Linked DNA regions of Homo sapiens: region 1 is linked to region 2. Evidence: fine-mapped expression QTL. A gene starts in region 2. The other region holds a variant in brackets. All regions are shown on one strand. Distances are from middle to middle.

Region 1 (4,000 bases), 110 kb after region 2:
TAAGTAATTTTGACAATCTCCTAATGTAATATTTAAATTTCTAGCAATTAGGACCCCAGTAATTACCTAAACTTTAATAGGAGCTATCATTTAGAAATATTTGTTGATATGGTTGTAGTATTTTAGTCAAAGCATCTTTTGGGTTAAGAACTCCTATGGGTACTTTGATTTAGAAACTAATGTTGGTGTCTATGTGGTATTCCTGGGAGCACCTTCAATTAATATGCAAGAAAAATGATTATCTTGAGTTATTTGTGATACAGAAATACAGGGTGAAATATGTATGCACAAGTAAAATCAGGCCTCAAAGAAATCATTTTTTGTTTGTTTGTTTAAAACTGTGTGAAGCATAGCAAAGAGTAAGTTGGCTGAACAACAGATGATAATTTTGTTCAACACTTAGCACCAAATCCTTTGATAAAGGATACTTGGCAAAAAATAGTTTGAGAGGAAAATTTCTAGTATTTGTGGAATATGTTATAGTACTTGTTTTGATTTATTAGCCTTTGATATTTTTTAAACAGAGGGAAGATTTCTGAACACATACTATTGATGTCATTTAGCTCCCACAACTTTGCATATAAAAATCTCTTTCATTACTCATCAGACTTTTCAATAGGACAGAAATGTGAAAAATAGCTTTATTTTCCTCCAGTTAGAAATTAACAATGTTTTCATGTGCTAATTTCCAAATATTTTCATCAAAAGAGTGCTTGCTTCGAGTTTTTTAATTTTCACACTGATTTAGAACAGGATATGTGGATTTGGTACTTTCTGCTACACATGATTTATGCTGATTCTTCTGTCTCTTCCCATTAGAGTAATATCTGGAGAATTTTGCCAATAAATCTGCCAACTAAGTATTTAATTTTTAAAGTTCTAACTCCACTCTACTTCCTAAAATCTAACCATTATGTAATTTCTTGTTACCTGCTCTTTTAGACAAATAATTATACTACTCCATATAATTATGTTAGAATCAGAAGCTACTTGTGTGCTGTGATTGAAGGATGCTGAAATATTTTTGCTTCTCTAAATAATTTCGAATGCTTTACTTCTTGAATCTTTGAGTGAAGGAACTGAAGACTTCTCTTAAAATGTAAATATTATCTAATAAGTGATCAGTTTTGTTTTCATCAGCCATCAACGCCTTAGCAGCACCTGAGAAATAAAATTCAGCAACTTTTGAACAAGGGACAGGTCTGCCAAATGGGGATCTAAAGTAAGTATCAGCCAAATGGCTCCTCAGAACTATGTATGGCTAAAACAATAGGAACAGTGGGAGGGTGAAAATAGTGAGAAAAAAAAAGAATTTATATCTACTTGATCTACTTGAAAGTATATTTTATCATGATCACAAGGTTTTAACTAAAGCAAAGCTTTTACATATAGTATATTTATTTTATCCTTATTTTATTTATTTATTTATTTAAGAGACTGGGTCTTGCTCTGTCACCCAGTCTGGAGTACAGTGGCGTAATCAAAGCCCATTGCAGCCTTGAACTCCTGGTTTCTAGCAATCCTCCCGCCTCA[G/A]TTTACCAATTACCATGTATACAATTACAACTATAGGCATGTACCACCACACCTGGCTAATTTTTTTAAATGTTATATTTAATTAATCAGCATCTTCAGTGTCTTGAAGACTTTTGAGATTTTCTTAAAAACAGAATATTTCAAAAAAGTGAGAAGAAGCTCTATACAATAATCTTGCCTTTTGAGAATTGTAACGTAATAGAAAAAGTCACTAACTTTCAGAATGTCAAGAATGTCTTGGTATGCGTCTTCTCTGTGACCCCCTTGCATAATGAACCATATGTCTTCCACATGCATGGATATACAGTTGCAAACATTCTCTTATGAATTTTTATATGAACTGCTTCTGAAAACAACTTCAACTATCTAAAATTTTTATTTTTCTTATGTCAATTTAAAATTTAGTTTCAAGAAGAGCCAAATGCATCTTTTTTCCCCTAAAACATGAGGGGGTTTAAGCTTACCTAAAGGTCTGCAAATATTTATGGTCATTTTGGAGAACCCTAAACGTCTCCAAAATGTGCAAAAGAAACAATTGAGAAGCATGGCCTTAAAAGTTAAAAATCTAAACTTTGGTTACTTAGTGTCAATAAAATTTTGTACAAAAATATCCCTCAGTAGTGGGGGAAATTTATAACTGATTCATATTAATTTAATTATGGATCTTCAAGTTTACTTGGATTGCGGTTGAGAAATGCCACCCGATTGTGTCTGTAGCATAAATAACATGCCTAGCAAGCCAAATTCTTTCAGAACATGATGGCCAGTGACCTTCAATCTTGACTCAAAATCCAAAATAATCAGAAGAATCAAGAGCTCTGTGATATTCAGTTGAAGGTAGCTGACTTTCTGATAATCAGGGTTATCTAGATTGCAGACATTTATCAGGTTAGTTCCAAATATTTTCAGATTTGGATGATCACTAGAAATGTCTCAGTGTATAATATTAGACCTCAATGCGAGTCTAGACAAATTCTTCTGTATTGAGAGCTGCAAAGAAATTTTTATAGGCACTTATGTTTATATTCAATTTTCTGGTATATCAATCTTACTTAAAAATTATTTCCTAGAATGGTTTCCCCTTCTGCAACCTCTTGTGGTTCATTCCACCCTATGGTTTCCAAGAAATATACCACAGATCAATATATGTATTTGGCTTTTAGTATAATGGAGGTGCATGGACTTGGTGATGAGTCCAGGCATTGAAAGATTTAAATCAATACAATGTGTCTTAATTTCTGGGGCTTAATGTTCCTGTTACTCTCACTTTCTGCTTTTACTCAATCCTGCATTTATGTACTTGCAAGAAATTAGGAAGTGAACATGTGATCAATGGACCACTGTGAACAGCCTAAATCTAGAAACACAGCTGCCAGCTAAGCTGTTATGCCTCAGCACATTGCACTCAGTCTACTCCCTGCCTATGAATGATGCCCGTGCTTATGAATGATGGATCTGAACAGAGGGACAATGAGAGACTACCCTGGATACCCTATATGCCTATGACTGTGAATAACATCAGTATTTTGTACTTGCTTCTGGCAGATTGCGTAATAAAGTGATTGGCATTCTAGTGATGCTGCTGTCATGAGTATAGACATTTGATAGGTCTTCCCATTCTTAGATAAATAATATCTTACAAAGCTCATTTATTTTTAAGAACAAGGGGACTGAATAGTTTTTTTTTTAATGTTTGTGTTTTTTGTCCCTTAAAAATGTTACAGTTGGTACGGAGGAAATTTTTTTTCCATCATGTCAAACCTTTCTAGCCTATCGGGGATAGAAAAAGTATGAATTCCTATACTTAATTGGTACCGATAAATGCCTTGTACTTACTAATGGAAGTGATTTAAAGTTATGTTTTACTCAATATGAGATTTTTATTCTAGACAAGAGTTTATGAATTAGTGATTTAAAGACTCAACATGGATGGACAGAGGATCCTCAAAAAGTTACTTGAGCATTCAAGTAACATGGAGTCATTTAACAAAAACAAAATCACTGCATTTTACTTAGAAATAATTTTTCAAAGGACTGAAAGCATAAAATCTATATTCTATATTATTTTGTTTATCCTCAGAATATTATTTGAGTCATTTAACAGGCAGGAATTATGTCTAGAATACTTATGTGAACATAAACATTCAGGGTTAAGCTAGGGACTTTTGTATTACCTTTGTCATTTCTCAACTCCAGTGACTTAAAATGCAACTTTCAACTTAGAGATGGACAAAGAAAACTGACAGTGAGTAGAAATAAAAAGAAATGGCATTGGCTTCCCCTATCTCTCCTAGAGTGGGATGGGCAAATGAAATATAAGGATAAGCGTGTTTATCCTAACAATGATAAACATTTCCATGTAATGTATTCATTATTCATGTCATCAGGAGAAGATGTCATATTTCTCAGAATAAAATTATTTGAAAAGATCTTCAGAACAATACAGAGAAGGAAAAAATATCCGTTT
Region 2 (4,000 bases):
ATAAAAAATATATTTAAACCATTTGTAGTAGAAGGCTTTAAATTCTAGGCTGAAAAATTTGGTTATTTTGTGGCCAATAGTAAATAATTGGAGATAGATGAACAGGGTAGTCACATAGACATGCAACCAACGGAAGGGAAGAAGGCTTGAAGATTGTCTTCTCCAAATTCCTCATTTTACTGATGAGGATACTGAAGCCTGTAGAAGTAAAGGAACGAGCTCAAAGCCCCATTAAACTCATATTAGTTTTACTACATATTTCTGGGCTTTAGATATCGTAGTTGGTATTCTGCTTAAATATTTTTAAGTAACTCAATTATAATTGTAGGGGAGAGGGGAGCTTACATTTTGAATGGTCCTCAAATAGAAACATAAATTTTAACTTTCCATCTCACCCGTGAGGCTTTTTGCCAAACTGAGAAACTGATTCACTGCTCTTCCTCTAAATTTGCTTCATCCATTCGGAGCACATTATAATAAAAAGAACCTGCTTTCAGACTTCTGGTGCCAAAACATTTCAGGAAAAAAAGAAATCAAAGATGAGCTTTCACCTCTTTACAAAATTGCATCACTGCTGCTTTATTCTTTCATCTTTATTGCAAATATTTAAACAAAAAACAAATGTCACCAGCTAAAGATAGTGAGGAATTTATTGTGGAGACAAACAAGGCTCTAGATATGTCAAAACTGGTGAGCTGACTCACCTTTATTAGGTGTGAACGGAAGCCCAAGCTTTACAGTGGTTACTATACATGAAATTAAATGAGATATCTTTCTTCTATAATCAGACCTTTCTGTAAGTGCTTTCTCTGCAGCCTTTTGTTTTTAAATGCCTGTGTACTAAAATTGTCCTTCAAATGTATCTCTTTGAAAGAATGAATAAATCGAGGGAATATACTAAAGCAAGAAAAGACATAATAGAGGTGAAGCATAGAAAGTTGATTGTTTTAACTGTTTTTTTTTTCACTGTTTGTAAATCTCCCAATGCTATAGGGCACAATCAATTAAAATAATTAATTTTTCAAAACCCTGAATTTATTTGACCGAGGCTAATTTCACTGGAATGTATGTCGTGTATCTGCATATCGTCCAATTTCTAAAATACTAAAACATTTTATCAATGAAATAAATGAATTAAATCGCCACCTATGAAAGTACCTGGCACACTACAAATCTCAATAGTCAAATTCTTTGACTCCTTGAAATCTCAAACAGAGCTACCGCCTCTTTATTTACTCTACAATTTACTTCTGAAGAAAACATTGAGTAATTATCCTATTCCAGCCATCAAAGTATGGGAAGAACAGAAAGAGTCAGCAGCGGTAAGCGGTATGGGTGTTTAAGAAACTAGCCACGGACCAGCAGAGCCTGCGAATGCGCGGCGATGTGACGACAAGGTTGTTGATGCCACAGCCTGTGAGGGACAGCAGGCAAGATGCCAAACGGAGGGACCCGCGTCTCTAAGGGCCGCCGGCTGAGCTGGGGCTGATCTCCCTTCCGCCTCCCGGGAACCCCAGTCCTCGCCAGCGTCGTCAGGATTCCTTGCCCTAATTATCCCGGGAGGAAGACGCGCCTTTCCCGGAGACCGCTAGGCAACACTCACCAAGGCAGCCTCCAGATTACTTCCCTCCGTGGGTGTGTGACTTCGTCGAAGCAACTCACACTTACAGTAGATTCTCACTGGCGAGGCTGCGAGCAGCAGAGGGCGGGGGAGCTGGGAAGAGGAGGAGGGAAGGAGGGTGGGAGGCGCTGAGCTGGGAGGCAGAGGAGACGCCGGAGCTCCAGACACAGCAGGAGCGCGCCTTGGCGGTGCAGTTTCAACCTCGACTTCGCAGCCGCGCACACACCGCCTGCTCCCCGAGCAGCGGGAACCGCAGCAGCTCCTGGGCCGCCGCAGCGCAGCTCCGCGCTCCTACCGGCCGGCAGCCGTCAGTCCCTCCCCTCTTCAGCACTCAGCCCGCAGCTATTTCCTTCTGCCAGTCTCTTTGAACTCTGGATCTTTGCTTTTGCTCGCTGCTCTCCTGTTTTTCATTCTCCACATTTTCTCAAGTCCTCTTTCTTTATCCTTAGCCACCCTGCTTTTTTCCTCCTTTTTTAAAAAATCGGAGATTTCGTCTTAAAATGATTTGCCTTCCTTACCTTCGTCCATTTCAACACTGAAGGCTGCAAAGAACCTTCACCTTTCCCCTAGTGGTATTTAAAAATTCTCAATCCGTAAAAAGTCTTTTTGAAAGGCAAAGGAACAGGACCCAGGACCCTCTCGACACCCTTGATCCGAGTCCAGATCTGCACTAGCAACCAGAACTAATATTTCATTTAACCCCACCAAAGGGGGAGGCGAGAGGAGCCAGAAGCAAACTTCAGCTGTCTCAGCCGGATCCGTGGTTCCTACATTTGGAGGAGCCGCGTGCCAGAAGGCGTAGGACCCCAAGGGGGGACAAGGAGGACTCCCGAGTCTCCCTTCGCCGCTCTGCGAGGCCGAAGCGGTGGACTGAGCCGCTCGGGACAGCGGCACCGGAGGAGGCTCGGAGAAGATGCGGGGCTCGGGGCCCCGGGGTGCGGGACGCCGGCGGCCCCCAAGCGGCGGCGGCGACACCCCCATCACCCCAGCGTCCCTGGCCGGCTGCTACTCTGCACCTCGACGGGCTCCCCTCTGGACGTGCCTTCTCCTGTGCGCCGCACTCCGGACCCTCCTGGCCAGCCCCAGCAACGAAGGTAGGGAGATGGGGGTGGGGACCGTGGCGACCTGGGGCGGAGGGGCTAGGCGGGGCCTGGGAGTTCAGGTCTCAGCGCGCTGGACGCTGCTGCTGCAGACTAAATCGCAGTCTCATCTCAAATTGGTATTTGTCGTCCCCTTCCACTGGCCTTTTCGCTCCCCTCTGCGGTTTTTGGTTGCATTGTTTGACGTTAGCTGCGGAGTGCTGGGCAAGGAACATGCGTGTGGACAGAGGCTGGTTGGGGGGCTGGGAAGGTGGAAAACCTTGGGGGAAAGGAGGTCGAGGCCTCCTTTGGGGAATGGAGGCCCGTTCCAGGGGGATGGGTGCGGCTGGGCCTCACTTAAGGCGCGTGGGGAAGTGACATTTCGGGCTTGAAGGAGTGGGAACTGTTGGAAGCTCAGTGACAAGGATCTCTGGAGCAGTGGGGCTTTTAGAAACCGTTATTTGAGGCCAGTGATGGGAAACGTTGTGGGGGTGGCTGGATGCTTTTATTTTTGGGGAAAGTGCCTGCTGGGAGCTGTTATTTAGGGCATCACCAGCTGCTATTCTGGGGTGGGTGGCAGGAGCTTTTATTTCTCGTGGGAGGGGTATAGCGAAGGACAGAAGGCGCCCCACACAGTTGGGTGCCCTTCTTCTTGGGGGAGTTCATTGTCACACTCAAGCCAAGGTGGAAGAAGGCGAGAAGGTGGGATGCCGCGGCAGGAGGGGTGAGGGGGAGTGTCGCTGCTAGGAAGTTGCCGCTAAAACCCACCTGGGCATGTCTTAAAGACGGAAAAGACCTGCTCTGGCCAGCACCTGATCCAGGAGTACCCAGTCCCCCTCCCTACCCCCAATCCTGTGCTCCAGACCCAGAATACTGTCCCTGCCTTTTTCTGGGAGAGTAGAGCTGGCGCGGGAGCAACACCTGTGTCGCTCTTCGTGCTCCCGGAACAGTGCTCAGCCCCTCTGTCCGCCTGCCTCTTGGACCTGAGACCTCTGCCTTTGGGTCCCCTCCAGCAGCGCTTGCTCCTCTCCCACACCCGGACTGAGCTCGGGTCTCAGCCCAAGGGCGCATTACTCGCGGAGGGGCGGGAACAGTATCTCAGATCCAGATCTGTCAGCTCCACCATGAAAACATAGAAAAACCTACCCACTTTGGCTAGAATGGTGAGGTTTCGGTTTGGGGCTGTGGATGCGACGCGTGAGGCTCAAAACCTTGCAGAAATTCCTTCCACTCCTGGGCACGGGACACTAGACCGGAAAGATGAAGCAGCAGTGGTGGAGTCGTGTGTGTCCTCGTGACT

Direction of the effects. Positions count from the first base shown, and alleles are read on the strand shown. Sizes are in standard deviations (SD) of each study's normalised expression.
For the expression in sigmoid colon of the gene that starts at base 1,788 in region 2, allele A in region 1 goes with a higher level than allele G (small effect, 0.27 SD a copy in GTEx).

What was found. PIP is the estimated chance that this variant, and not a neighbour inherited with it, causes the effect. A credible set is the group of variants that fine-mapping cannot tell apart.
Region 1: its variant is the best candidate, but not a certain one, in a credible set for the expression of EPHA5 in sigmoid colon (GTEx, PIP 0.71).

What each region holds. Positions count from the first base shown.
Region 1 is chr4:65,560,410-65,564,409 of GRCh38, reverse strand. The region is part of intron 3 of EPHA5 (EPH receptor A5); the gene reads left to right. Among named protein-coding and RNA genes, the nearest start is that of EPHA5-AS1, 110 kb to the left of the region's middle. The variant G/A (reference allele first, on the strand shown) is at 1,534.
Region 2 is chr4:65,668,277-65,672,276 of GRCh38, reverse strand. It overlaps EPHA5 (EPH receptor A5), which reads left to right and starts at 1,788. Exons shown (of 17, transcript NM_001281766.3): 1 at 1,788-2,715. The coding sequence starts at 2,535. EPHA5-AS1 (EPHA5 antisense RNA 1) reads right to left here and starts at 2,316. Exons shown (of 4, transcript NR_034138.1): 1 at 1,604-2,316; 2 at 396-501. RefSeq lists an enhancer at 3,639-4,000.